Linked DNA regions of Homo sapiens. The protein of the gene in region 2 interacts with the protein of the main gene of each other region in a biochemical or structural test. Each region holds a gene or a part of one and is shown on either strand. Other genes may lie near its edges. The genes, in order: ITK, ERBB2, ABL1 and SH2B2.

Region 1 (7,515 bases), on a different chromosome or scaffold from region 2:
TTACTGCTGCAGCTTCATGAACGTTGCACCCTTTACCCCTCTTCCTCTTTTCCCTCCAGCCTGAGCTTCCGACTCAGGTGTGTCAGAAACCAGGCTTGTGTGTGGGAAAAGAGAGGTTAGGACATGGTGGAAAAGCCAACATGCTTCAAATCCTGAAGCAAACCCATGCAAAGTTACGGAAAAGCATCAACTTGAATACATGTTTGGAGTTTTGATTATTACCTTGAACTGAACTGGGCTTTCTTTTTCTTTTCTTTGTATTGTTGTTGTTGTTGTTGTTTTGAGACAGAGTTTTGCTCTTGTCACCCAGGCTGGAATGCAGTGGTTCAATCAGCTCACTGCAACCTCCGCCTCCTGGGTTTAAAGCTATTCTCCTGCCTCAGTATCCCAAGTAGCTGGGACTACAGCCACCTGCCACCATGCCCAGCTAATTTTTGTATTTTCAGTAGAGACGGGGTTTCACCATGTTGGCCAGGCTGGTCTCAAACTCCTGACCTCAGGTGATCCACCCGCCTCGGCCTCCCAAAGTGCTGAGATTACAGACGTGAGCCACCGCGCCCAGCCCCTTTTTCTTTGCTTAACTTTTTATTATGGAAATTTTCAAACGTGCATCGGTGCAAGGAGAGTAGAATAATGATGTACCCATTAGCCAGCTTTAGCAATTATCAAGTCATGGTCAAACAGTTTTCATCCCTTCCCCTACCAATTTCTCCCCCTCCACTGGATTATGATGAAGCAAATCATAAACATTTTATTGTTTTATCAATAATTCAGTGTATGTTTCTATACAAAATAAGGACTATTTTAACATGATAATAGTGCCATTATTACATCTTTTTTTTTTTTTTTTTTGAGATGGTGTCTTGCTCTGTTGCTCAGGCTGGAGTGCAGTGGTACCATCTCAGCTCACTGCAACCTCCGCCCTCCAGGTTCAAGCGATTCTCCTGCCTCAGTCTCCCAAGTAGCTGGAATTACAGGCACACAGCACGACACTCCACTGACTTTTGTATTTTTAGTAGAGACAGGATTTCACCATGTTGGCCAGGCTGGTCTCGAACTCCTGACCTCACGTGATCCGCCCACCTTAGCCTCCCAAAGTGCTGGGATTATAGGTGTGAGCCACCACACCCAGCCCATTATTACATCTTAAAAAATAACAAGTTTCTCAGTATTATCAAACATCTCTTTAACATTCAAATTTGTCTAATTGTCTCATAACGTCTTTATACAGTTGATTTGCTTAACTCTTAATCCAAAGTCCAAACATGCTCATATGTCTCTTAAAGTCTCTTTTAATCTAAGGGTTCCCCCTTTGATTTATTTGTTGTTTTGTTTTGCTTTTGTTTTTTGAGACAGAGTCTGGCTCTGTTACCCAGGCTGGAGTACAGTGCTGCAATCCCAGCTCACTGCAACCTCCACCCACTGGGCTCAAGTGATCCTCCCACTTCAGCCTCCCGAGTAGGCGGGACTACAGGTGTGTGCCACCATGCCTGGCTAATTTTTTGTAGAAAAAGGGTTTCACCATGTTGTTCAGGCTGGTCTTAAGCTCCTGGGCTCAAGCAATCCACCCCCTTGACCTCCCAAAGTGCTGGGCTTACAGGCATGAGCCACCGTGCCCTGCCCTCTATGACTTATTTGTTACTGATACTGAGTCATTTGTCCTTAGCATGTTTTGTATTCTGGACTCATCCAATTGCATCTCCACAGTGTCATTTGTCAGGTTCGTTTATCTCTTGTATTTCCTGTAAACTCGAATTTATATCTCGAAGTTTGATTAGATTTGTGTTTGATTTTGTTTTCTCTTGGCAAGACTCCCGAGTTGCCAGTTTTGTGTACTTCCTCTTGCTTCACCTCAGGAGACATACAATGTCTGGTTGTCCTTCTTTTAAGATTAATCAGTGTGTTACAGTGTTGTCAGCTTCATATGACAGTTATACATTTTCCTATTGGCTTTTTGCGTAATAATTTTAACAGCCATTGATGATCATTGCCTACATTTATTATTTCATTGGCATTGCAAAACGATAGTATTCTGTCACTCCTTCATTGATTAGTTTCTTGGAAAAAAAGAACTTCCTCATTAAATACTTGATCACTGAATTGAAAGATAATTCTTCAAGAAAAGCAAGCAATATGTTTTATTTTTTTCCTTTGTTTCCAGTTTTCAGAAAAACAAGTTGGTTCTTCAGCATCCTCCAAAAGTGATCAAAAGGTTGGGATGCTTTTTTCAATTCTCTTTTGAACTCATTGTTTTAACATTTTTGCTGTTCTTCAATTCATGGCAATTATTATTCCTTTTGATACTCAAATTGTTCCATCTTTGGCAAGTGGGAACTCCTTGAATTTGGCTCCTATGAAGTGAACTTTTTAAAACCAAAACAAACAAAGGGACTATTTGTTTTTGTTTATGTTTTCCTTAAAGTGAGAAAAAAATATTGAGCCTCCTAAGTTTGCATTTAAAAGTTGGCAAAGATGAGTCTCAGTTAGTGGGTTTGATGGCTCTATGAGAAAGAGAATAAAATTACTTACGATGACACTCCATGTAGACTGAGCAAACGAAAGACTCCTAAGTATTGCAACAGCTACTGATGATATTTTGTTTTCCCGGATGAGAACACTTTGTGAAGTCTATAACTCTTTTCATCTGAACCAAGCAGGTGTAAAATGTACTTTCCTCAGAGGAGTTTGTAGTCTAGTTTGAGAAGATAGCACTGTATTATCTAGGTTTGCTGGTAGTGACAGAAACCTCAAAATAACTGAGACTTAGAAAATAGATATTAAAAAATGTAATCCAGGGCTGGCATGGAAGATCCATGGTCACCAGGGTCCCAGGCTCTTTCTATCTTATACTCCATTGTCCTCAACATTCAATTTCCACCTCATGATACTAGATAGCTGCTTCAGCTCCAACTGTTACCTCAATATTCTAGTCACAAGGCAGGAGGAAAAGGGAAAGAAAAGGGGATGACAGATCCCACTAAGGAAATTTCCTAGAAGTTGTGCACACGACTTCTGCTACATTCAGTTGACCAGAAGACAGTCATACAACTACACCTAGCTACAAGGGAGGCTAAAATTTGTAGTCTTTATTCTTGCTGGCCAGATGCCCAGATAACTGTCAGGGATTCTGTTACTCTAGTAAGAAGGAGAGAGTAGCTATTTGGGAATAGTAGCAATCCCTACCTCAAGCCCATACTCAGAAAAAAAAAATACTATCTTGTTTGGGCAGTGTATTTCCACACATATGTCTTAAGAATCTCAGAATGGGGGAGGTAATTTAAAATATACCAGTACCGTACCCTCCTGGGTGTCTTGATTATGCTGGGGCATCCAGTATATGAAATAAAATTAGGCTGTTGTCTGGTAATTTACATTTAAAAATAAACATTGGAGAATTTCACTCCTATACAGCAATAATTATTATTTCATTTATTATTTATCCCTACCCACTACATGCAATATCTGCTTACACTAAAATCTCTTGATTATTAACATAGTAGAGGTAACTGTCACACATTATACTTCAACTATGTACTAACTCTAAGGTGACATGTATGACTAGCACCTACCATTCATAAGATGTATGGGATTCAGTCCTCCAAAGGACCCTCACAAGGAAGCTAAGGATCAGAGAAGTCATGGCTTGCTCAAAGAGAAACAGCATAGTAAGTGACAGAGCTGGGAATCCAACACAAGTTTGTCTGTTTTCAAAGCCCACATATACTTTGTTTATTATGCCATTCTGAAGGATTCACTTATTTTTCACTCTTCCACAAAACGTCAGGACAGAAAGGCAGTCATCTATATGTAGCATTGAGAAATTTCTATGGGCTTTAATTTAAATCTTAAAAACTAATAAACTTCAGCAACATATTTCTTCACTTTAATGTGTGAGGGTTTTGTGCTCATTACCTCTTTTAATTGTCCAACCCAATTTGGTGATGATCCATTCAACAAATTTTTCTTGAACATCTGTTTTATGTGTCAGGTACTGTGATGGTTGCTGAGTATATCATGGTAAGCAAAACCACACATTGTCCTTACTCCTTGTGCTACATGATTTAACTGCTGGATGGATTAAACCAGGAACTATAAAGATTAAACTGTAATCCTTACCACAATTTTGAGTTTACAGTTTTTCAAATATCATTTCAAGCCATTAGCAAAGGCTGTATGTATTTTTTACATATGCCTCCTCGTTTTGTGAATTTTGAAAGGATGTGGTTTCGGCCTTTGACATCAGAGGAGAAGCTCAGCTATGTTGGCTGAACGTTGATAGAAAGATAACGTTGAAGGCAAGTTGCCCTTGAGCAGCTCTCTGAAGATCAACTGCCTCCACATTGCATTCTTTGCCCCAAAACTCTTTCCTTTGGTTGTGCTAAGAGGTGATGCCCAAGGTGCACCACCTTTCAAGAACTGGATCATGAACAACTTTATCCTCCTGGAAGAACAGCTCATCAAGAAATCCCAACAAAAGAGAAGAACTTCTCCCTCGAACTTTAAAGTCCGCTTCTTTGTGTTAACCAAAGCCAGCCTGGCATACTTTGAAGATCGTCATGGGGTATGTGAGCAGTTTCATTTGTCTTTTTTCGCATAGCATTTTATGTTTGGACTGGGCTAATGCAAAAATATATACATAGCATAAAATAGAGCACAGGAAACACAAACATGCTTATTGTAACAACATAAAAAGTACAGTAAAAGTAATCAGAGGAGAATGCAGAGAGCAGTCAAGAGGTGAAATGGTGGTGCTAGGTGATTTCAGTTCTAAAAACTGTAAATTTAACATTCATCAGCTTTTTCCCCCTGCAAGGTTATGTTTGGTTTTTAAATTATGAATAACATTTTAGGTAGCAAGTATTATGATTCGATAAAACTTGAACTTTCTATGAAACATACTAAATTTAATGAAACATACTAAATTTAATGAAACATAGATTAATACAACACTAGCATTCAATGGGATGATCTACCCCAGCTTTCTTATTTTTTAGTGGAAGAAACTGGTGTTTAGAATGGTTAAGTTTTGGGTTCAGTGTTAACGTTTTCATGAATAACTCTGTTTGTCTCAATACTCGTCGCTAGCCTGATCTTGAAATAAGATTTCCCAGGCATTTAATTATCTAAAAGTTGTAAGGCACAATGGCAAACCTCTTCATCTCTTGATAGACTTCTTAGGACACCAGGGTTATTAAGAACAAAGTTTCTGCAGTGCAGACCAGCGGTTCTTACCCAGAAGGAGTATGGCTGCTTTGCTAGGTCAGTCTATCTCTTTATCTAAAAATAGTCTTGTGCTTCTTAACATCACTAATAACAAAAGCAACAGGAATAATCCTAATAATGTAGTTTGGTAGAAAAAGCATTGGACAAAGGGTCAGGAGACCAAACTCTACTTCTCAGTAGGTGATCCAGTCTGGGCAAATGTCTACCTCCTGTTTCAGGTTCTTTCTTCATAAAATGAAAAAACTGGAAATAACAACCTTCAAGATCCCTTTCTTCTTCAAAACTTCTTTGCTTTATGCAGTGGCTCTTGTTTAGCCCTATGCTGCAATTTTTCAAAGCATGTTTGATTTCTTACTGTATGGTTATATTATTTTTACATCATTAGTGGGGTAGGACAAGGATTATCACTTATATTTTACTGAAGGGAAAATAATATTAGGTGCCTGATGGTCACTTAGAAACAAAAGTGCTCCAGTTCTTTGTTGGAGTCTGACTTAGTAGGTGGTGGCATGAGTTTGGGATTCTTTGGTGTGCCAGGGTTTAAAGCACTTCATGAGATGGAGCTCCAGAGGAGGTCAGGCTGGGTATAGAGCCTATGGATGCCTCACTTTTTAAAGTTGCAGGTGTTGCATGTCTTTTGTGAATTAAAAAAATACAGAAAACAAAAAAGTTGCAGGCGAAATAGCTCTGCCTCTTTAGAAGTGAAAAGAATTGCTTGTCTTATTATCAGACTCTTACTGATAACAATTTACCAGTCAATCAGAAAACACATGGAATTACGTGCAAGTCCTCTTTGCTAGGTGGCCAGGAGCCCAGTTTGTGAACTTGGGGGATTTATCATGTAGAGCTAATAAATCGCATGGCATTACTCAATGCTTTTTTGTGAATGGAACATTTAAAGTTTTTGTTTCATATTGAAAGAACAGTCATGTACCTTTAAATATTTTTTTCAAAGTCCATTTTGCAGTTTTCACCAGTTCGTTTTTCTGATTCAACATAGTATCATCTCATTTAGTTAGTATTAATAATTCCTTAGCCCAACTGCTATTTGTGAACTGATTGTGAATTCAGCTCAATATTATTTGTAAGTAATCACAAAACCAGATGGCCTTAATTCAGAATATTATTGGTCATAATTTGCATGTAGACAAGGTTGTAAAATCACCCTACTTCTTTATCTGAGCATTATGGAAAATTTCAAGACAATTACTTCATTCTGGGGAGCCCTAGGCTACAGTTTCTAATTCTTCCATGTGAGATATAGAGAATACATGTCCAAACATCAAATTTCTTGTTTTCTAATGCCTTTTTTACTCTTATAAATAACATTTTAAAAGTATTTCTTTAATTATTTAATTATTATAGAAGTTTATTAATTAGAAATTTATCCAAGTTCCCTGAAAAAGGTAATATATGTGAATTATTATTGTTCATGTCTTAGGTATACTACATGGTTTCAGGCCACCAATTTGCACACAAGGCTGCATTAATATTACTCATAAGTAAATAACATTACACTTATGGGAAGAACATTTTCATTTTTAAATTAAAGGCTTCATTTTCAATCTGTAAAATGGGTGTGATAATAGTACCCATTTCATAGGAAGATGGCAAAGACTCAGAGGTATAATGTCTTTAGGCTGAACTTTTTGAAATTATTTGGCAGATCGAATATCAGATATTAGAAGTTTCAAACAATTCAACTTAATATATTAGGTACTTAGCATAGGCCCTGTCATCTGGTAAGCATCTAGTAAAAATTAACCATTATTTGTATCCCTTTCATGTCTCTACAGAAGCTAGCAGGCTGTCATAACAATTCATTTTCAAATTATGGGAGATATTCAAGGATTCTTCAAAGTCAAGCTAAGATCAGGGTCCTGGATTCCTTCTATTCTGTGGCTAAATATAAGTTTTGTGGGGTAGATATACATGCATTATGAGCTGTTTGGCCAGTTATTGCCCCTCTTAGGGTGTCGGGTGTCAGAGCTTCTTTTTCTCTTTTCTCATGTGTAAAATTATGATTCTTGCAGTTCTCATATTCTATGAATTTATAACACCATATGAAAAATAACCCTTCTACATACTCAAGAACATATTCTGTAATTCTAGAAATCAAGTATGTTTATTCTAACCTAAAAAATCATGCCTATTGTCATTATAATACTAATTGATTGAGGTTTTACTTTAACATGGTTTTAGTTCTGGTGTTCGATGCCTGTTTTTCCTGTTGAGATGTGCAAGTGTTTTCAGAGGGGCCAAGAAGCGCCTTCATCTTGCTGGAGCAGTGGG
Region 2 (7,561 bases):
AACAAACCTCCCCACCAAAATGAGAAAACTGTGTTTCTCCCTGGCACTCACAGGGACAGGCAGTCACACAGCTGGCGCCGAATGTATACCGGCCCTCGGGATTGGGCATGGACTCAAACGTGTCTGTGTTGTAGGTGACCAGGGCTGGGCAGTGCAGCTCACAGATGCCACTGTGGTTGAAGTGGAGGCAGGCCTGGGGGGACAGGTGGCTGGCTTTCACTGTGCTGTTTTGCCCTGGTGTGCCAGGGGCAATAGGGCAGTACCAGGCAGGGTGCCCACCCCTTGCATCCTGGGGGGTAGAGCACATTGGGCACAAAGCAGAGGCACATACCAGGCAGTCAGAGTGCTTGGGGCCCGTGCAGCCGGCAGCACACTGCTCATGGCAGCAGTCAGTGGGCAGTGGCCCCTTGCAGCGGGCACAGCCACCGGCACAGACAGTGCGCGTCACTGTTGGGCAAAGGGCAGGATGAGGGCTGAGTGGCGCCCTGGGCACCAGACCCTCATCAGCATCACCTTCTAGGGAGACTACCTGGCCCAGGGGAGACATCCCAAGCCTGTTATCCCACCCCTCCCATGTCACCTGTATGACACCTGCATTCCACCCGGCCCCAGCCCTCCCCTTCCCTGACTCCAGGCCTCCCTGAGACTCACGGCTCTGACAATCCTCAGAACTCTCTCCCCAGCAGCGGGAGCCCTTACACATCGGAGAACAGGGGTGGCCTGAGGACAGAACCAGAGACAGGCAGTGAGAGAGATGTCTAACAGCGAGAGGACGGGTTAGTAACAGAGAGAGGCACAAACAGCAGCAGAGGCCACGAGGCCAACTGCACAGCAAGGGAGGGACCCAGACAGGCTGAGAGGCCCCCAAACCAGAGGCACAACCTATAAGCAGAGGGAGACAAGACAGAGAACCCCAGAGATGAAGAGGCACAGGGAGATGGCAGGAGGGACAGAGAGGGAGGAAATGGGTGGTGTAGGCGGCTGGGGCAGTGGCGGGCAGGCACTGGGTTGTAAGTTGGGAGTTTGCGGCTGGGGTCAGGCTGTCTGAGAGAAGAGGCAGCAGGGAGGGGCATGGCTTACAGGCCCGAGAGCGGTTGGTGTCTATCAGTGTGAGAGCCAGCTGGTTGTTCTTGTGGAAGATGTCCTTCCACAAAATCGTGTCCTGGTAGCAGAGCTGGGGGTTCCGCTGGATCAAGACCCCTCCTTTCAAGATCTCTGTGGGGTGAGCAATGATCAGAGGACCCTTTCCCCTTCTGTCACCTTCTGCTTCCCTTGGGGCCCTCCTGCCTTCTAAAAGAGGAGCAGGCCTTTTAAACAACCCCCAGATTCCCCAGGGAGGAGAGAAAGCTATCTTTACCGTCTTTGAGTCCCACCACCACCACACCCGCAACAAGAACAAAGCGAGAGCCAGGGAGGAGTGAGTTGTCCATGCTAGGTCCAGATGCTCATGTGGACCGCAGCTCTCTCCTTCCTTCTCACCTCTACTCTGGGCATGCTGCTTGGTGGTTAAGAGACTGTGGAGTCTGAAACTCAGCCCCATCACTCACTAGCTGTGTAACTTTTGGCCCTTATATCTGCAAGCCTCAGTTTTCTCATATGTAGAATGAGAATAACACTGATTTTTTCCTGACAGGACTGCAGCGTGACTGAAATGGGCCATGCGGGCAAAGCACCTGGCACCCAGACTCTGGGGCAGAGTCGGCTCCAGGGCCAGCAAATAGTTACATAGGTTGTTCACTGTACACTTCACTCAGCCAAGTGGGGGCAAAAACCCAGCCTGCATTCTCACGATTGAATTATATGTGCTGACGCAAGCTACAACTTCCCAGGAAGAAGGGGAATCTTTTTCCAATCTTCTGAGGGCGTCTTCCCGGGCTCTGCCTGCGTCTGCCCAGAAGGGACACCATTTCTAATGCACACAAAGCCTCCCCCTGGTTAGCAGTGGCCCTGGTCAGCTCTGAATAACCAAGAGAAGGTTTCAATGACGGTGAAGGCCACCTGTGAGGCTTCGAAGCTGCAGCTCCCGCAGGCCTCCTGGGGAGGCCCCTGTGACAGGGGTGGTATTGTTCAGCGGGTCTCCATTGTCTAGCACGGCCAGGGCATAGTTGTCCTCAAAGAGCTGGGTGCCTCGCACAATCCGCAGCCTCTGCAGTGGGACCTGCCTCACTTGGTTGTGAGCGATGAGCACGTAGCCCTGCACCTCCTGGATATCCTGGGAGGGGGAAGCAGAGTGGGGCTGAAATAGGAACACTGCCACCCCCCAGGGCCTCCCTGGGGTTCCCCAGTACTTGGAGATCTTGGGCAAGGCCCCCAGCCACTGAGCAGTCCTGTTCCCGCTTAAATAAAACGATAAAATAGAGATAAAGATCACGCCCTACCTTGCCTCACCAGATTCTTATATGATCAAGAAAGATAATGGTGGGGGGGCATTTCATAAACTCCGAACAGGTGCCCTGCCCTCTCTGTATCTCAGTTTCTTCATCAGTGAAAGCAAAGGCCTGGATGGGATGGCGTCTGCAAATTTTTTTTTTTTGAGACGGAGTTTCACTCTTGTTGCCCAGGCTGGAGTACAATGGCACGATCTAGGCTCACCACAACCTCCGTCTCCCAGGTTCAAGTGATTCTCCTGCCTCAGCCTTCCCAAGTAGCTGGGATTATAGGCATGTGCCACCATGCCTGGCTAATTTTGTATTTTCAGTAGAGACGGGGTTTCTCCATGTTGGTCAGGCTGGTCTCGAACTCCCGACCTCAAGTGATCTGTCCGCCTCGGCCTCCCAAAGTGCTGGGATTACAGGCATGAGCCATCGCACCCGGCCGGCGTCTGCAATTTGACAAACCAAGCATGTGGCCCCATTCCAGGGTCTGTGGACACGATCCAGCAGGTTGGTTTCCACTCTCCCTCCTGTTCATAACCTTTTCACAGACATTTCTCTTCTGAGCTTCACAACTGCTCCCAATATACAGATAGGGAAACTGAGACCCAGTGAAGCTAAGGGGGTGTAGGCCACATTCATAGGGCTCGTCAGTGGCAGAAGTGGGCCTGTAATCCACCTTTCTCACCAGCCCTTTCTTCTGCTGTAAGTGGGAGAGGGATAGTGGCTGGAGCAGGTGGACAGGGGACATGATCATGCTGGCAAGAGAGCACAAGATTTAGCGGAAACACAGACGCATCCCATCCAGACATGACCTCGGCCAGCCACGTTATAGAGAGAGTCAACTGATTCTGCAGTAAAATGAATGGGGGTTAGATGTTAGAAAGGACTTCCTGGTTGAGAAACCACAACAAGAGAGGAAACAGAAGGGCAGGGCACCTTCTTCTGCCACCCACCTGTAAACAGAGGGCTCAGCCCAGCTGGAGGCAGGGCCTGGCTGGGTTGCCCACGGGCCTCACCTGCAGGAAGGACAGGCTGGCATTGGTGGGCAGGTAGGTGAGTTCCAGGTTTCCCTGCACCACCTGGCAGCCCTGGTAGAGGTGGCGGAGCATGTCCAGGTGGGTCTCGGGACTGGCAGGGAGCCGCAGCTTCATGTCTGTGCCGGTGCACACTGGCAGGAGAGAGCAGATGGGTCAGAGGACACTGGCGGGGGACCTTCTCAGACCTGGCCACCCCATCCAAACTCACTCCAAGTCATGCCACCTCAGACAGGGAGAAGCCTGACTGAAGGACCCCTCCGCCCATGTCCCTTGCACACTGCAGGTTTAACAGCAGGAGAAAGCTTGCGTGCTTGGGAAGTAGAGGGATTTCAGGGGAAAGGCTTCTTCTGACTAGGCCCACCCTGTGCATTCAGAGGCTGCCCCAGCGTGCCAGCCCTGGGGAGCTCGCCCGCCAGTACAGGGTGTTGGCTGGCAAAGAAAGGCTTCCTTTGTCCCAAAGGCACAACTCAGGGCAAAGGGGTAAAAATCCCCCAAGAGAGGCGATGACGAATCATGAATCTTCTGGATACCCCCTGCCCCTCTCCCAAGCAAACAAACTCGGTGCATTCTCCCTATGCCATTCCAGCACACCCACATGCCAACCTCTTGGCAAGGGATCCACACCCCCGTAATGCCACCCAGAGAGTGGGGAAGGAGGGTCAGCTGGAGTTGCAGCTGAGGCATGGGACAACCGGGGCTCTGGTCATTGCAGAGACCTCTGGGAGTCCCCCATGAAGAGAAAAGGAGCGTCAGATTCCAGTTGTGGGCATCTGGACCCAGGCTGCAGATCCCAGGCCAGGGTGAAGCATGCGCCAAAGGTTCCTGCGCTGGCACCCTCACCCTGGCCACCTCCTCAGGGCAAGACTCCAGAACCAGCTGGCAGAATGTGTGCCACGAAACTGCTGCCACAAAGGCACTACGTCAGCCCTGCATACCTGCCCAGCGCGAGCCATCAGCCATGGGGCATAGGGCTGAACTGCCACACCTGGCCCACTTGGACCCCAGCCTGGTATCCCTGAGACCAGAAATGCCCACTAAGGTCAGGAATACTAGAGGAGGTAAAGCACCCCTGGTGAGGGGCGCCGGGGTAGCAGCTCACACCAGGCCTGCCAGTGAGGGGAGATTAAAGTGCCCAGTTGAACTTGTTTTTCTGCTCTGGTGAGATGAATCACCTGGCGTGTCTTGCCCAGGAGATCGGAAGGGTGGGGGCAGAGGGCACCCTCAGGCCCACAGGTGCCTGAGCTGCCCAGAATTCCTGCCGGTCACTGCTCCGCCTCCCACAGGCTACATGCAGATTCAGGGACAGCACAAGGGCTGGCTTGGGGTCTGACACCAGAGGCACTGCTCTCCCAGCAAGTTGGAGCCTAAGGTCAAATCCTAGGGGGTAATACGAGGTACCCCCTGCCTTCAGATTGCTGGGAGAGGCTGGTAGGGCAAGCCCCCAGGTTCCCTGCCTGGGCCAGTGGCCAGTGGCCACAAACTGGTGGTCTCCTAGTGATACTCAGAATGGCCTCTATTCCCACCTCTCTAGGCAGATAAGGACAAAGAGGGAGGAACAGGAGGGAGGAACAGAAATAGAACTCAAGGGTCCATGTCCCTGAGGGAGGCCTCCCCACTCCATGCCTCACCCACTTGCACCCCCTCCTCTTCCCCACACTTCCTCCCCCAACAGACTCCCAAGAGAAACAGGAGCTGGGGGTGGCAGGCCAGGCCCAAAATAACGCCCTGCTGCCAGGACCTCCCCCGGCCTCAGCCCTTCAGCTGCTTTATAGACACAGCTGTCTGCAGGCCCAGACCCCAGGCCCTGGCCCAAGCCCAGGGTCTCCACAGGGCTGGGGCAGGGTCCGACTCCACCCCCTGTAGCCCTTTTCAAGGGATACCAGCTGTGGCCGCCAGGCAATAGGAAAACAACAACAATGGGGAGTGGGGGCCGCCACAGTAACTGAGCTGAGCACCTACTGTGTGCCTGGCAGGCACTCTCGGTGGATCTGCATAACATGCTCCAGAGACTGGGGCTGCAACCTCCATCTTGCAAAGAAGACAACTGAGGCTGGCAGGGGTTAGCTCTCGCCTCATAAAGCTTGTGAGCAACAGGCAGGACTGGAACTCAGGCTGGCCTGCCTTCAGATCCCACATTCCTTCCACTAGGCCTAACTGCACACACACAAATCCACCCCACACCCCACGCCAACATAAATACACACTAATTCTCCCAATGCCACCGATAAACACCACAGGCTCTACGGAGGGCAGGGTGGCTGGGCTGGGTTGGGCTGGAGGGTCAGAACGGGTGGTAGCCCCACCCCACTAGTGAGTTTGTTTACCTGATTTGTGGCCAATTTGAGTCTGATTAAGAATCTTAAAGTGTTTGCAGACAGGTGGTAAAATTGGTACCCTGAGAACGGTTCCCAGGGAACTGGAGGCTTGCTGGCTAACACCCCCACCAGCCTACATGAAGTCAAGAAGGTCTTCCTGACACCTCCCTCCCACTCTCCCATCTCCTTACCATTGTCCCCATATCTGCCCTGTCCCATTGGTTTTCTTTTTTTGAGATGGAGTCTCGCCCTGTCGCCAGGCTGGAGTGCAGTGGCGCAATCTCGGCTCACTGCAACCTCTGCCTCCCGGGTTCAAGCAATTCTCCTGCCTCAGCCTCCTCAGTAGCTGGGATTACGGGTGCCTGACACCACACCTGGCTAATTTTTGTATTTTTAGTTGAGGCGGGTTTCACCATGTTGGCCAGGCTGGTCCTGAACTGCTGACCTTGTGATCCGCCCGTCTCGGCCTCCCAAAGTGCTGGGATTACAGGTGTGAGCCACGGCACCTGGTCCCCGTTGATTTCCTGGGGGGTAGGTCCTAATTCTACCCAGGAGTGTCCTTGTCTCCAGGACCCTGCCCCTCAGGAACCCCAACCTCCAATTCTCCAGAGCAAAGACAGTATGAGGCAGGACCAGCCACAGGGAGCGCTAGATAAGTGTCTGCTGAGTGAATGAATGAATGAGTGGATGAATGAAGTCCAGTCACGAGTCTCCGAACAAAAGGGACCAGTTGAGGTCATGGAATCCATCTCTCTGCTCAGAGCTGGTCACAGTCCTTCATGTCTCTCTGGACTCTGGTGGTCAGGACTTGACCCCAGTCCTGAGGTTTCTCTCAGGTGGGTTCTCTCCTCCCCACCAGCTTGCAGCCCCAGCTGCTCCTCTTGCTCACAGCAGAAAAGCCAATACTTCCCTTGGTTTCCATGAATACTACAGTAAAATGACCTGTGTCCCCAAAGCTCAGCTCTCCCAGACCCATAATGTCACAGCCCATTCAAGTGACACTGGGATTCCCCGACCACAAACACCTGGTGTATCAGGCCTGACATCAGACCAGGGCCTGGGCCCAGGGTCTTTAGTTGAGAACCCTAGCTCAGCTGCTCACTGAGTGATCTTGAGCAAGTTCCCAGACCTCCAGGGCAGAAGCTAAATCGGATTCATCTCTATGCCCTGCAGTACCTGCAACTTGGTGAATATTTACTGACCTAAACTTGGCTGTAACAGCTCTTACTCCCTCAGAGGAGGTACATGAGAGTTAAATGAGGTAATGAATTGCGCAGCCATCTGTAAACATGACGAGGCTTTGTAAACAGAACTGGGACAACACAAACATTCGCTAGAATAATTCTCCCACTCCTTGAAAGAGTACACATCCCTTACCCCACCTCGGCTCTCTTCCCAGGGGGAGGATGGGTGGCCAAACATAAGATGGAGATGTCACTCTAGAGGGGCTTCTCACAGGTGGAGGGCAGGGAAGGAATCTCTTTCCAGATCATTCCATCACCCAAGGACAGGCACAACTACCCTGGGCCCCACCCCAGCCCTCCCAGCCGCAGCCCCACACTGGCCCCTCACGCTGACACTTCAGCTGTCTCTCTCACCCACAGCCCTGTGTGTCAACGTGGCCTCTGTCCCCTCCTGCCCGCAGCCCCCTGTCATGCTGGTAGGGCCCAAAAGGAAGACAGGCATTGGCTGGACAGGAAGGGAGAGGACTCTGAAGTCAAGAGGGAACCTCAGGGCCCCCAGCTCAGCTCCACTTTCTACAGCCTAGAGAAGTGGATGGAAAGGTCATTCGCCTGAACAAGAGGAGCGCTTCTCCTCCCATCTGGCCACCTGC
Region 3 (7,561 bases), on a different chromosome or scaffold from region 2:
GAACTTTCACCAGGAAGTGAACCGAATGACCCAGGCTGCAGTCCCACATGGCTGCCCTTTCACCCCACTGCAGGTACCCCGGGATGGGTACTTTACCGTCTGAGATACTGGATTCCTGGAACATTGTTTCAAAGGCTTGGTGGATTTCAGCAAAGGAGGGCCGGTCAGAGGGATTCCACTGCCAACCTGGACAGATGAAACCCAAGTCAGATCATCCATGAGATCTGGCTAGCAATACGGGGCTAGCAGTTCTCAAGGAAAAGTCTAGAATGAAAGCAACATTCCAATCCTGCTAACCATCTTTTGCTGCAACAAGTCAAAACGATGAATGTCATCATGTCCTGTTATAGACATTAAGAATTTGAAAAGACGTTAGATGCTGGCAGGAATATGGATTGTAAAACCCCAGAGAGACAGTGACAGCAAGAACTGCATTTACAAATATATTTTTCCCAGTCCCGCTCTAGTAGGTGTAGAAAATTACTAAGCCAAACAGCTCACCTTCTATCTTGTTCTTTCTTCACGGTTATCAAAGTCTGAAGTAAAGAAATTCTCATGAAAATGAGACTAACATGAGGACTAAACAGACTGACAAAGCCTAGTACTGGGGACCAGGAACAGTCACTCCCATATGCGTCTGACTGGAGCATACAATGGCACAACCTTTTTTAACAGTTTGGTAAAATGTATCAAAATTTAAAACCCACACAGTTCTTGGAACCAACAGTTCAACTTTTAGAAATACCAGCCAAAGTGCCCAGAGATTCGTGTACATGAATATTTGTTTCTGCTTTGTTTATAAGGGCAAAAACCAAACAAATGTGTAAAACAACCAAATGCACATCAAAAGAGGACCGGATGAATGAGTGAAATGGAGTACTGGGCAGCTATACATAAATAAGAGGTAGGGAGAGGGAGAGATCTGAATATATGGACGTGGAAAGACATGTGTGGGAAAACAGTGTAAGAAATGGCCATATAAATACCTTATAAGATATATGAAAACATCCTGTGTGTGCATAGTACAGATAACACATATGTAATCAGTATAAAACGACCAGATAAAAATCACCTCGCAGCTGGGCGTGGTGGCTCACGCCTGTAATCGCAGCACTTTGGGAGGCCGAGGCAGGCAGATCACCTGAGGTTGGGAGTTGGAGACCAGCCTGACTAACATGGAGAAACCCCATCTCTACTAAAAATACAAAATTAGCCGGGCGTGGTGGTGCATGCCTGTAATCCCAGCTACTTGGGAGGCTGAGGCAGGAGAATCGCTTGAACCAGGGAGGTGGAGGTTGAAGTGAGCCAACATTGCGCCATTGTACTCCAGCCTGGGCGACAAGAGCGAAACTCCGTCTCAAAAAAAAAAAAAAAAAAAATCACCTCATGAGCTTAGCTACTATAGCAGAATGTCTGTGAAAGCAGGGCCCAGGAATCTGTATTTAGGAATACACCCAGGTTTGGTATCTATCAATACCATTTTTGCTTTAAAAGACAAGTCACGCACATACTATTTATCTGTAAATAAAGGTCAATAGGTAGCAAATGGCTACATTAGCTGCATCTGAAGAACTGGAATGGAGAGAGCTCATGGAAAAACTTTCAACTTTGTGTACACACTCCTGCACAGTTGAATTTCCTGGAATGCCCACATATACTCGTGAGAACAGGCTGAGGAAGGCTTACATGCTCGCATGAGTTCATAGACCTTCTCTGGGCAGCCTTCTGGGCGCTCCATGCGGTAGTCCTTCTCTAGCAGCTCATACACCTGGGACAGGTCAATTCCCGGGTAAGGGGACATGCCATAGGTAGCAATTTCCCAAAGCAATACTCCAAATGCTGAAAGAAAACCGAAAGAGAAAGGCTGTTCAAGATGTGTAGCATTTCACTACACTACATTTAAAATCAGTTACCTTTGCAGCAGACCTCAGAAGGGATGGCCCCAGCAGCAGCCCAGGCTCTGACATTTTACCAGGCTCTTTATCATCAGAAGACCAGGACAAGGCTGGGTGCGGTGGCTCACGCCTGTAATCCCAGCACTTTGGGAGGCTGAAGTGGGAGGATTATTTGAGGTCAGGAATTCAAGACCACCCTGGCCAACATGGCGAAACCCCATCTCTACTAAAAATACAAAAATTAGGGGCCGGGCACGGTGGCTCACACCTGTAATCCCAGCACTTTGGGAGGCCGAGGCGGGCGGATCACGAGGTCAGGAGATTGAGACCATCCTGGCTAACATGGTGAAACCCTGTCTCTACTAAAAATACAAAAAAATTAGCCGGGCGTGGTGGTAGATGCCTATAGTCCCAGCTACTCGGGAGGCTGAGGCAGGAGAATGGTGTGAACCCAGGAGGTGGAGCTTGCAGTGAGCCAAGATCAAGATCGCGCCACTGCACTCCAGGCTGGGTGACAGAGCGAGACTCCATCTCAAAAAAAAAAAAAAAATTTAGCCAGGTGTGGTGGTGTACGCCAGTAGTCCTGGCTACTTTGGAGGCTGAGGCAGGAGAATTGCTTGAACCCAGGAGACGGAGGTTGTAGTGAGCTGATATTGCTCCACTGCACGCCAGCCTGGGCGACAGAGCAAGACCCCGTCTCAAAAATAAAAAAAAAAAAAGGAGACCAGGACAGAACAAGACTCAGTAAACTTACCCCACAAACATGCTAGAGGAGGGCAGATGATGAGTTTCAGACCCTGTGGGGTCTTTTAGGTAATGTGACCATCTTGCTGGGATATGTGGTAGAAGGAACCTGGCGCCGGAAGTCAGCTGGCCATGTTAACTCTTAGCTCTGTGACCAACCAGCTCTGTGCCTAACCGGCCACCACTGCTTTCTGGGTGCACAAGACTATCTCCAAAGCCCCTTCTAACTCTAAACATTTCATAAAAATCTTATGAAATCTTTGAAAGTTTTGAAATCTGAGATTATTGCCTTAAAATTCCATTTCCCATTAAAGGATAAGATTCCTTAGAGAAATGGGTGATTCAGGCCTGGGGCACAGAATGAACCTGCAATAGCTTGTCATTTGAGGGCGCGGACGTCATGGAAAACTACAAAGTTAATGTCAAAATGACTAGGAGCTAATGTGAAGTTCCCACTGGCCAAAGACGAGACAATCTGAATATCAACAGGGAAAATAACCGCAGTGGACTGAAACACATCAGATATATATAAATCTGAGAGTTCATAATACCACCAATGACAGCAAAAACCTAATTGGCCACCACTGAAGGGTATTAAGAAACTAACTTGTGCACTTTGGGAGGCCAAGGTGGGCGGATCACGAAGTCCGGAGATCGAGACCATCCTGGCTAACGCAGTGAAACCCCGTCTCTACAAAAATAGAAAAAAAATTGGCCGAGTGTGGCGGCGGGCGCCTATAGTCTCAGCTACTCGGGAGGCTGAGGCAGGAGAATGACGTGAACCCGGAAGGCGGAGCTTGCAGTGAGCTGAGATCATGCCACTGCACTCCAGCCTGGGCGACAGAGTGAGACTGTCTCAAAAAAAAAAAAAAAAAAAAAAAGAAACCAACTTGTGGCAGGGCATGGTGGCTCACGCCTGTAATCCCAGCACTTTGGGAGGCCAAGGCAGGTGGACTGCCTGAGCTCAGAAGTTCAAGGCCAGCCTGGGCAACATGGTGAAACCCCATCTTTACTAAAAATACAAAAAAATTTAGCCAGGCGTGGTGGCAGGCACCTGTAATCCCAGCTACTTGGGAGGCTGAGGCAGAAGAATTGCTTGAATCTGGTAGGCGGAGGTTGCAGTGAGCCGAGATCATGCTACTGAACTCCAGCCTGTACTTTGTACCCCAGAAAAAGCAAGACTCTGGCTCCAAAAAAAAAAAAGAAAAAGTAATTTGTTATTTTAAAAACTGGTAAATAAAAACAAAGAAGCAAGAATTGACCCTGCTCTTCCTACATGAACTGTACCACTGAGTAACCACACAGATGAGGAACTGTTTCTCCTCATACAAGTTTCCACTAGTAACTTAACAGGAATGACAGAATTAGAGAATTCCTACCTGGCAATACCTAGCAAACTATTGGATCTAGGCACTGTATATCAGTAACTGCCAAAAATTACTCAAAAAAAAACCCCCACAAAAAAACGATAGCAAATCAAGCATTTTGGGGCCAGGCGTGGTGGCTCACGCCTGTAATCCCAGCACTTTGGGAGGCCGAGGTGGGTGGATCACGAAGTCAGGAGTTGGAGACCATCCTGGCCAACATGGTAAAACCCCGTCTCTACTAAAAATACAAAAATTAGCCGGGGGTGGTGGCATGCGCCTATAATCCCAGCTACTCAGGAGGCTGAGGCAGGAGAATCGCTTGAAACCAGAAGGCAGAGGTTGCAGTGAGCCAAGATCGTGCCACTGCACTCCAGCCTGGGCAACAAGAGCGAAACTCCGTCGGAAGGAGAAGGAGAAGAGAGGAGGGGAGGGAGAGGGGAGGAAAGGAAGGAAGGAAATAAATGAAGCATTTTGTATCTACTGATGGAAGGGCACACCATCTCCCCTGATCCACTCTTACTAAAAGAGAAACAGTCAAACCTGAATGTGATGAGGCCGTTCCAGATCCAGCCACCCATTACTAGGAATACTGAAGTCAGAGGAACATATTAAATCACACCATGGGAGACAATGAGCAAAACCCAGAACGTACGAAACTCTAAGGATGGTTTCTTCAATAAACAGCAAGGGAAATAAAGACATGGAGAGGGGGCTTATAGAGGAGACTTAACAGATCAGCAGATACACTGTGCACCATATTTGGACCTCAGGCCAAATACACAGTTAAAAAAAAAAAAAAAAGGGTGGCTGTGCACAGTGGCTCACACCTGTAATCCCAGCACTTTGGGAGGCCAAGGCAGGCAGATCACCTGAGGTCAGGAGTTCTAGACCAGCCTGGCCAACATGGTGAAACCCCATCTCTACTAAAAATACCAAAAATTAGCTGGGTGTGGTGGCGGGTGCCTATAATCCCAGCTACTCAAGATGCTGAGACAGGAGAATCGCTTGAACCCGGGAGGGAGAGGCTGCAATGAGCCAAGATTGCACCACTGCACTCCAGCCTGGGTGACAGAGTGAGACTCCGTCTCAAAAAAACAAAAAGAAAGGAAGAAAAGAAAGGGAAGAGCAAGAAAGAGGCAGAAAAAAACCCTCCTGTAGTCAGGAAGGACCACTTCAGTGCAGCAGCAGCCCTTACCCCAGACGTCGGACTTGATGGAGAACTTGTTGTAGGCCAGGCTCTCGGGTGCAGTCCATTTGATGGGGAACTTGGCTCCAGCATGGGCTGTGTAGGTGTCCCCTGTCATCAACCTGCTCAGGCCAAAATCAGCTACCTTCACCAAGTGGTTCTCCCCTACCAGGCAGTTTCGGGCAGCAAGATCTCTAAGAAAGGAAAATGTTCACCCATGAGAGCTCCTGGCCAACCTTCCACTTCACAAATCCACCACTGCTGAGCAAAGGTGCAATGCTGACAATGGAAAGATTGAGTCCAATGCCCTGGAAGTTTGTATTAATGCCCACGGCAATTAACACAGTGCCAGCCTCTCAGCAAACACACCCTGAGATCCCAACATGGGGAGAGGCTGGTGCTGGGAGCGGGCTCCCTGGCCTCATGACCTGGAGCAAGTTAATTACCCTGGGACTCAGTTACCTCATCCGTAAAATGAAGACGATAATAATGGCACCTACCTCTTAGGGTTGCTGTGAGTGTAATTAATTAATATGCTAAGTGCTTTGATTGAAGTGTCGAGAATAGTAAGTGCAGTTATTGCTACTCTATGCCAGGCACGGAGACAAACACTGAGCCCAGTCCTTGATTGCAAGAAACTTCTATCAGAGTGCATCTCCACTTGTCCTATTCAGACTTGATGGGACAAAATAAAACAAAGCCCATGGCATTCTTTACCCAAACTGTGTTTCCTACTTCCCTCTTTCTTCCTGAGGTGTACCCAAATGTATCCTAAAAAACTCTCTCCTGTATAATCTGCTTCCTCTCACTTCCTGATTCTCCCAGGGAGGTAGGAGTCTAATCTTTGGTTCATGAACATTAACCATGAAATCACAAGGCAAACGGGAAGAGCGGAATGAGAGGGGGCAGCAGCTTGAGGTGATGGCTGCGTGAGATAGCCTGATCGTCAGCAACAAGAGTGAAATTAAATACAGAAGAGTTGTGCCTAAGAGGATTTTGATAAAGCATTTTAAGTTCGCTTGAATGAAGAAGGAACGGACCCGGCCGTGCCAGGCAAACCAGAAGTCAAGCAATCTCAATTTGCAGCATCAGAGGATTCACTTTCCTGAAAGCCAGGAGTATCTGGATCAGGCTCTCATGGAGCATAGAAAATCTGTCTTACAAGGAGCCGCCAGCATTTCACACATGCTACCCTTATTCCTTGCTATGAAATCTCATGTAGAGGTTTCATACTTGAGCTAATTGGGTAGGAAAGGTCACAGTGGTGGTGTGGAGAACATCTCGTATAAAAGACGCCAGCAAAGCCCATCAGGCTCTGTCCTGCACAGGCCGTCGCTTTGCTGGGAAGCCATTTCCACCAGCAAAGAATTTGAAGACCAAGATAATTGTGGCACATTTGAAGGTCAAAACACTTCAGGGTTTAAAACAGCAAAGACACTTAATTTAGACCTCCACATACACAATTCTGACAATTGTGGAAACATCCCTGAATCAGAGGACAGCAAGTTAAGTGGAGAATGAAAAGATAATAAAGAGAAAGCAGGAAAAAAAGACACACACACTAAAAAACAAAAGCCATGTACTGGTTGTTCCCATGAGTTTGCGTAAAAGCAATGCCAGCGGCTCCCAGGAAGAGGCCATTACTGCTGGGCGCTGGCCCCGGAGGAACAATGAGTACTCTCTTTCAGAGGGGACTGTGATTATTAGGAAGGACGCCTTTTATGAACTTCATTTAATATTCCACTTAGCCCAAAATGGTTCAAAAATGAAATATTCCTTACTCCGGGGATTAGCTGCTCCACTGGTCCAGAGTCTAGGCCTGGCTGAATTTAGCCCTGGATGCATGCCCAAAGCTGGCTTTGCCAGGAGCCTAGTGTTTGCCTTTGTTCCAAGGTCCAATGTGTTGCCAGCACTGAGGTTAGAAGCTGCGCCCTGAGACCTCCTAGGCTGGGGCTTTTTGTAAAAGGCTGCCCGGCTCCACGCCCTGTGACTCCATGGCGCAGGCTGCCTGGCCAGGCCCCTACCTGTGGATGAAGTTTTTCTTCTCCAGGTACTCCATGGCTGACGAGATCTGAGTGGCCATGTACAGCAGCACCACGGCGTTCACCTCCTGCCGGTTGCACTCCCTCAGGTAGTCCAGGAGGTTCCCGTAGGTCATGAACTCAGTGATGATATAGAACGGGGGCTCCCGGGTGCAGACCCCTGCCAACAAGACAACGAGGACTTCAACACGTGGCTCCGCTCCCAACTGAACAAACAACTGTCTAAAGAAAAAGCCTTCTGAAGGATTCTGACTCTGCTCCTCAGTCCTGGGCCCAACTTCCAACATGGTCCCAAGCACCTGCATCCTGAGACTGTGCTCGTGTGGG
Region 4 (7,561 bases), on a different chromosome or scaffold from region 2:
TCTGCTCTGCAAACTCTTTCCCCAGCCGCTGTGAAGGTGAACCTCACTTAGTGGAATTTTCGAGCTGGCAGGGTCCCAGACACCTCATGTCACAAATCGGGAGAGAAACCTTCCCACCCTCTGAGGGTCTGCACGGGATCCCAGGAGGAGCCCAGCCCCTCAAGGATAGTGGGCAGGGATCATGGGCCCTCAGTGGGGACTGTCCACTCAGTGGTATCCGGGCCAAGAGAGAGCCTTCCCCTGGGCTTTCTGAAGTTTCAGTGGAAAATCAATTTGCAAATGGCAGATAAATGAGAGAAAAGGCATACAAATTTATTTATTTATTTTTATTTTATTATTTTATTTTTTAGAGGTAAGGTCTTGCTCTGTCACCCAGGCTGGAGTACAGTGGTGCAATCAAGCTCACTGCAGCCTCGACCTCCTGGGCTCGACTGATCTGCCTGCCTCAGCCTCCCAAGTAACTGGGACTGTAGGCACATGCCACGATGACTGGCTTAATTTTTTTTTTTTTTTGAGATGGAGTCTCGCTCCATCATCCAGGCTGGAATGTAATGGCACAATCTCAGCTCACTGCAACCTCCACCTCGCAGGTTCAAGCAATTCTCCTGCCTCAGCCTCCCAAGTAGCTGAGATTATAGGCACCTGCCAACAAGCCCAGCTAATTTTTATATTTTTAGCAGAGACGGGGTTTCCCCATGGTGGTCAGGCTCGTCTCGAACTCTTGACCTCAGGTGATCTGACAACCTCATCATCCCAAAGTGCTGGGATTACAGGCGTGAGCCACTGCAACTGGCCTTTTTTTTTTTTTTTTTTTTTTTAGAGACGGGATCGGGATCGTGCTATGTTGTCCAGGCTGGTCTTGAATTCCTGGGTTCAAGAGACCCGCCTGCCTCGGCCTCCCAAAGCACTGGGATTACAGGCATGAGCCACAGTGCTTAGCTGCACAAGGCAGATTAATAGGAGAAAAAGCATGTAAATTTATTTAACGTGTATACATAGGAGCCTTCAGAATGAAGACTCAAAGATACAGGGGAGGGCTGGGCGTGGTGGTGCACGCCTGTAATCCCAGCACTTTGGGAGGCTGAGGCAGGCACATCACCTGAGGTCAGGAGTTCGAGACCAGCCTGGCCAACATGGGGAAACCCCATCTCTACTAAAAATGCAAAAATTAGCTGGAGGTGGAGGCGGGCCCGCTGTGATCCCAGCTACTCAGGAGGCTGAGACAGGAGAATTGCTTGAACCTGGGAGGCGGAGGTTGCAGTGAGCTGAGATTGCACCACTGAACTCCACTGGGTGACAGAGTGAGACTCAGTCTCAAAAAAAAAAAAAAAATCCCAGGCATGGTGGCTCATGCCTGTAATCCCAGTACTTTGGGAGGCCGAGGCAGGCGGATCACGAGGTCAGGAGTTTGAGACCAGCTTGGCCAACATGGTGAAACCTCATCTCTACTAAAAATACAAAAATTAGCTGGGCCTGGTGGTGGCATGCACCTGTAATCCCAGCTACTTGGGAGGCTGAGGCAGGAGAATCACTTGAACCTGGGAGGCAGAGGTTGCAGTGAGCCGAGATCACACCACTGCACTCCAGCCTGGGCAACAGAGGGAGACTCTGTCTCAAAAAAAGGATACAGGGAAATGGTCCATTTTTATGCTTAGGTTCAGCAAAGTATGGACAGCAGTGTAGAAAGAGGATTGGATACAAAGGGTAGGATCTAAAGGGAATAGACTGAGCAGGGGACCCAGCCAGGCCTGTCTGTCCAGATTCTTCTTGGCCTCTCTGAGTAGCATTCCTTCCTTCTGGGTGTGGGACAGAACCCTATCTTGAATGGGGGTCTTATGACCTACAGTCAAACCAGGCAGATTGGGTAATTTCTTTCTTTCTTTTTTTCTTTCTTTCTTGCTTTCCTTTCCTTCTTCCGTTTCTTTCTTTCCTTTTGTTTTTACTTTTTTTTTCTGCTCCGTTGCCCAAGCAGGAGGGCAGTGGGGCATGATCACAGCTCACTGCAGCCTCCAACTCCTGGACTCCATTGACCCTCCTGCCTCACCACCACGCCCAGCTAATTTTCTTTTATTAAGATGAGATTCTCAGGGCCGGGCGCGGTGGCTCATGCCTGTAATCCCAACACTTTGGAAGGCCAAGGTGGGCGGATCACCTGAGGTTGGGAGTTTGAGATCAGCCTGGCCAACATGGAGAAACCCCATCTCTACTAAAAATACAAAATCAGCCGGGCGTGGTGGTACATGCCTGTAATATCAGCTACTCGGGAGGCTGAGGCAGGAGAATTGCTTGAACCCCCGGGAGGCAGAGGTTGCAGTGAGCCAGGATTGCGTCATTGCACTCCAGCCTGGGCAACAAGAGCAAAACTCTGTCTAAAAAAAAAAAAAAAAAAAAAGACGTGTTCTTGCGGCCAGGTGCAGTGGCTCACGCCTGTAATCCCCACACTCTGGGAGGCCAAGGCGGGCAGATCACCAGTTTGAGACCAGCGTGGCCAACATGGTGAAACCCCATCTCTGCAAAAAATACAAAAAAAAAAAAAAAATTAGCTGGGCATGGTGGCGCATGCTTGTGATCCCAGCTACTCAGGAGGCTGAGGCAGGGGAATCACTTGAACCCGGGAGGCAGAAGTTGCGGTGAGCTGAGATCGTGCCACTGCACTCCAGCCTGGGTGACAGAGCAAGACTCCCATCTCAAAACAAACAAACAAACAAAAAAGATGGGGGTCTCGCTATGTTGCCCGAGCTGATCTCAAACTCCTGACCTCAAGTGATCCTCCCACCTCAGCCTCCCAGAATGCTAGGATTACAAACATGAGCCACTGTGCCTGGCTGGATAATTTCTTTATGACAAGTTTTTACATAGAATATTTTTAGGTTGGCCGGGCGCAGTGGCTCACGCCTGTAATCCCAGCATTTTTGGAGGACGAGGCAGGCAGATCACGAGGTCAGTTTGAGACCAGCCTGGCCAACACAGTGAAACCTCATCTCTACTAAAAATACAAAAAAATTAGCCGGGCATGGTGGCAGATGCCTGTAATCCCAGCTACTCAGGAGGCTGAGGCAGGAGAATCGCTTGAACCCAGGAGGCAGAGGCAAAGTGAGCCGAGATCGCGCCACTGCACTCCAGCCCTGGCAACAGAGTGAGACTCCGTCTCAAAAAAAAAAAAAGAATATTTTTAGGTTTTATGACTACGTTTTGGGAAAAGGGGTTCTGGTTTCTGTGACCCACCTTGGGAAAAAGGGACTTTTGTTTCTCTGGTGCCTCTGGGGAGAAGAGGACTGAGAGACAAGTAGGCAGGAGAAGGTCAGAGAAAAACTTTTTTGTTCGAGGCTGCTGCTGAGGACTTTGTTTTGCGGTATTGTTTTCTGAGCCCCAACAGTGGCCTGGTCAATCACACGGTGGCCACAGAGCCAGTGTAGGGTGGGACAGAGGGACATGGAGGCAGAGGGAGGTGACCAGAGCCAGGAGGCCTAGATGCTGGGCCATGGGACTGCCAGCCACTGCCTGGCCACATAAGTAGCCTGTGGTCCGAGTCCAAGTCCCACGGCAGGACATGGTTTCCATTTCTTGTCTCCACAGTGACAGTGAGGAAGACACCGAGCTCTCCTGTACCCGAGGAGGCTGTCTGGCCAGCCGCGTGGCCTCCTGCAGCTGTGAGCTCCTGACTGATGGTAGGTAGGGGGACAGGGTTGAAGGAGGGGCACACTCAGGGTGGACAGATAAAGATACGTGCATCTTACCTGCCACTTCCCCAGCAGTCGACCTGCCCCGCCCCCCAGAGACGACAGCCGTGGGTGCAGTGGTGACAGCCCCCCACAGCCGAGGTCGAGATGCCGTCAGAGAATCCCTGATCCACGTCCCGCTAGAGACCTTTCTGCAGACCCTGGAATCCCCGGGCGGCAGCGGCAGTGACAGCAATAACACAGGTGCCAGTGGGGACAGCCTGCTCTTCCCATCCCACCTCTCCTGGACCCCCACCCCCAGCCATGGCCACCCATGGGCTCCCTAAACCTTGCTAAGCCTCAGAAGCTGTGACATCTCATCCTCCTGGGTCCTTCACACGTCTCCGAAGTACTTCTGGCTTTTGTAGACTGGTCTAGGAACCTGGCCCCTCCCACTGGACCCAGTTTCAATAGAAAATGTTCACAGGGGCCGGGTGCGGTGGCTCACGCCTGTAATCCCAACACTTTGGGAAGCCAAGGCGGGCGGATCACCTGAGGTCAGGAGTTTGAGACCAGCCTGGCTAACATGGCAAAACCCCGTCACTACTAAAAATATAAAAATTAGCTGGGTGTGGTGGTGCACACATGTACTCACAGCTACTCGGGAGGCTGAGGCAGGAAAATCACTTGAACCCGGGAGGCGGAGGTTGCAGTGAGCCAAGATCACGCCACTGCACTCCAGCCTGGGCGACAGAGTGAGACTATGTCTCAAAAAAAAAAGAAAGAAAAGAAAATGCTCACAGGGGCTGGGTGCAGTGTCTCACACCTGTAATCCCAGCCAGTGTTTTTTGAGGCTGAGGATCACTTGAAGCCAGGAGTTTGAGACTAGCCTGGACAACATAGCAAGACGCTATCTGTACAAAATTTTTGAGACAAGAGTCTCACTTTGTTGCCCACGCTGGAGTGCAGTGGCGGATCACAACTCACTGCAACCTCCACCCCCAAGTCCAAGCAATTCTCACGTCTCAGCCTCCCGAGTAGCTGAGATTACTGGTGCCCGCCACCTCGCCTGGCTCATTTTTGTATTTTTGGTAGAGATGGGGTTTTGCCATGTTGGCCAGGCTGATCTTGAACTCCTGCCCTAAGTGCTGGAATTATAGGTGTGAGCCACCACGCCTGGCCACAAACATTTTTGTGCCTGTAGTCCCAGCTACTTGGGAGGCCGAGGTGGGAGGATCACTTGAGCCCAGGAGGTCAAGCCTACAGTGAACTGTGATCACACCATTGCACTCCAGCCTGAGCAACAGAGAGAGACCCTGTGAAAAGAAAAAAAAAAAAAAAAAAGAAAAGAAAAGAAGAAAGGAGGGAGGGAGGGAGGGAGGGAAGGAAGGAGCTCACAGAAAAGGGTCCATAGGGTTGGAATCAGGGATTGGGAACAGGCGACTGGATTTGTTCCTAAGTTTGCTGATGACTTACAGAGTAACTCCAGGATAGTCCTTCACAGCTCTGTGCCTCAGTTTACCTCATAGACTTCACCAGTGGGTTGGGTCAGCTCCCTGCCCAACTCTAAAATTATTCCAGCTGGGCACAGTGGCTCATACCTGTAATCTCAGCACTTCAAGCAGCCAAGGCAGGAGGATCGTTTGAGCCCAGGACTTCCAGACTAGTCTGGGCAACAAGACTCTGTCTCTACAAAAAATAAACAAAAATTAGCCAGGCATTGTGGCACAGGCTTATAGTCCTAGCTACCCAGGAGGCTGAGGTGGGAGGATTGCTTGAGCCCAGGAGGCCAAGGCTGCAGTGAGCTATGATTGTGCCACTAGACTTCAGCCTGGGTGACAGAGCAAGACCCTATCTCAAAAAATAAATAAATAAATAAAATTATTTGGCTGGGCGCAGTGGCTCACACCTGTAATCCCAGCACTTTGGGAGGCCAAGACGGGCGGATTGCCTGAGCTCAGGAGTTAAGACCGGCCTGAGCAACATGGTGAAACCCTGTCTCTACTAAAAATACAAAAATTAGCCTGGTATAGTGGTGCATGACTGTAATCCCAGATACTTGGGAGGCTGAGGCAGGAGAATCACTAGAACCTGCAAGACGGAGGTTGCAGTGAGTCGAGATCACGCCACTGCATTCCAGCCTGGGCAACAGAGCAAGACTCTGTCTCAAACAAAAAAATATTCAGGCCAGGTGCAGTGGCTCACACCTGTAATCCCAGCACTTTGGGAGGCCAAGGCAGGAGGATCACTTGAGCCTAGGAGTTTGAGACCAGCCTGGGGAACACAGCAAGACTCCATCTCTAAAAAATAAAAAATAAGGCTGGGCGCAATGGCTTACACCTATAATCGCAGCACTTTGGGAGGCCGAGGTGGGTGGATCATCTGAGGTCAGGAGTTTGAGACCAGCCTGACCAACACAGTGAAACCCCATCTCTACTAAAAATACAAAAATTAGTTGGGTGTGGTGGTGGGCGCCTGTAATCCCAGCTACTCGGGAGGCTGAGGCAGGAGAATCGCTTGAACCCGGAAGGCAGAGGTTACAGTCAGCCACCGGGATTGCAGCATTGCACTCCAGCCTGGGCGACAAGAGCGAAACTTCGTCTCAAAAAAAAAATAAAAACTAAAAACCAACCAACTTTTTAAACATTATTCCAACAGCATTTTGCATGTAAAAAAACCAACAAGACGTCACCTCTCTTCTCACATTTATTTATTTGTCCCCCTTTCTCCTTCCCCCCATGTTCCTCACACTGTCATCCCCACCTCAGGGGAACAGGGTGCAGAGACGGATCCCGAGGCTGAACCCGAGCTGGAGCTATCCGACTACCCATGGTTCCACGGGACACTGTCCCGGGTCAAGGCTGCTCAACTGGTTCTGGCAGGGGGGCCCCGGAACCACGGCCTCTTCGTGATCCGCCAAAGTGAGACTCGGCCTGGGGAGTACGTGCTGACCTTCAACTTCCAGGGCAAGGCCAAGGCAAGTGTGTGGGGGGCGCCATGGGGGTGCAGTGGCCAGCCCTGAGGGAGAGGGGTCATGGTGACCCCGGTCCTGAGGCTGTGCCCTGGAAGCAGCTGCAGGCGAACAGGTGTGGCATGACTTCCCACGGGCCCCACTCACCCCAGCCATGCTCCGTGAGCCACCTGCGTCCCTCCTACACATCACTGAGGGACTGCAGTCAGCCCTATTTCAGCCTCTGCATTCTCCAGAAGGGGAGGCCACCTACTGGCGGCTGAGCCCTCAGGAGGCTGGGCCCTTCTAATAACCCAAATTTGCAAATCCTTTCAGCTCCTGCGCGCGGGGGATCTCATAGCACTGGAGCTTCGGAGGGTCTCCACCCAGAGATCGCCCAGTGGGGGGTGGGAGCCAACCAAGGCCCTCAGAGCCCCACCTTCTGCCCCACCGACCTCAGACAGCCCCTCTTCCCTGCCCAGGTTAGGTCACCAACCCCTGAGGAACACACACGGGCAAACCCTAGAGACCCAGCAGGGGAGGAGGAGCTGGGCTGGGTGGGAGAGCTGTGCAGGGTCTAGGGGGTGGGGTTCAGCATTGGAGGGGACAGCCTGATCAGAGACCTGCAGGGGAGGGAGAATTGTGGAGGGGAAGACAGTCAGGAAGGCGATCCCAACAGCACCCAGCTGGATCAGAGGCATGATGGTACACCCAGGCGGTGTGCTTTCAAGGAAGAGGATTCCTTGCTATATTGACCTGAAATGCTTTGTTTTTGTTTTTGTTTTTTTTTGAGACAGTCTCGCTCTATCCTCCAGGCTGGATTGCAACATCGCAATCTCAGCTCATTGCAACCTCCGCCTCCCGGGTTCAAGCGATTCTTGTGCCTCAGCCTCCCAAGTAGCTGGGATTACAGACACGTACCACCACACCTGGCTAATTTTTGTATTTTTAG

What was found.
Region 1: the proteins of ERBB2 (region 2) and ITK form a complex in vitro, tested with the Homo sapiens proteins (2 studies listed by BioGRID and IntAct, with this or other methods).
Region 3: the proteins of ERBB2 (region 2) and ABL1 form a complex in vitro, tested with the Homo sapiens proteins (3 studies listed by BioGRID and IntAct, with this or other methods).
Region 4: the proteins of ERBB2 (region 2) and SH2B2 form a complex in vitro, tested with the Homo sapiens proteins (2 studies listed by BioGRID and IntAct, with this or other methods).

Annotation. Positions count from the first base shown.
Region 1 is NC_000005.10:157,176,555-157,184,069, forward strand, and holds the start of ITK (tyrosine-protein kinase ITK/TSK), read left to right. Parts: upstream 1-4,285; 5' UTR 4,286-4,423; coding exon 4,424-4,561; intron 4,562-7,515. UniProt on the Homo sapiens protein: Tyrosine kinase that plays an essential role in regulation of the adaptive immune response. Regulates the development, function and differentiation of conventional T-cells and nonconventional NKT-cells.
Region 2 is NC_000017.11:39,702,972-39,710,532, reverse strand, and holds part of ERBB2 (receptor tyrosine-protein kinase erbB-2 isoform a precursor), read right to left. Parts: intron 3,544-7,561; coding exon 3,392-3,543; exon of another isoform or gene 3,329-3,391; intron 2,213-3,328; coding exon 1,999-2,212; intron 1,291-1,998; coding exon of another isoform or gene 1,216-1,290; coding exon 1,081-1,215; intron 721-1,080; coding exon 652-720; intron 448-651; coding exon 332-447; intron 194-331; coding exon 52-193; intron 1-51. UniProt on the Homo sapiens protein: Protein tyrosine kinase that is part of several cell surface receptor complexes, but that apparently needs a coreceptor for ligand binding. Essential component of a neuregulin-receptor complex, although neuregulins do not interact with it alone.
Region 3 is NC_000009.12:130,872,693-130,880,253, reverse strand, and holds part of ABL1 (tyrosine-protein kinase ABL1), read right to left. Parts: intron 7,395-7,561; coding exon 7,217-7,394; intron 5,387-7,216; coding exon 5,202-5,386; intron 1,840-5,201; coding exon 1,687-1,839; intron 187-1,686; coding exon 97-186; intron 1-96. UniProt on the Homo sapiens protein: Non-receptor tyrosine-protein kinase that plays a role in many key processes linked to cell growth and survival such as cytoskeleton remodeling in response to extracellular stimuli, cell motility and adhesion, receptor endocytosis, autophagy, DNA damage response and apoptosis.
Region 4 is NC_000007.14:102,310,760-102,318,320, forward strand, and holds part of SH2B2 (SH2B adapter protein 2), read left to right. Parts: intron 1-3,576; coding exon 3,577-3,668; intron 3,669-3,752; coding exon 3,753-3,923; intron 3,924-6,427; coding exon 6,428-6,636; intron 6,637-7,561. UniProt on the Homo sapiens protein: Adapter protein for several members of the tyrosine kinase receptor family. Involved in multiple signaling pathways. May be involved in coupling from immunoreceptor to Ras signaling. Acts as a negative regulator of cytokine signaling in collaboration with CBL.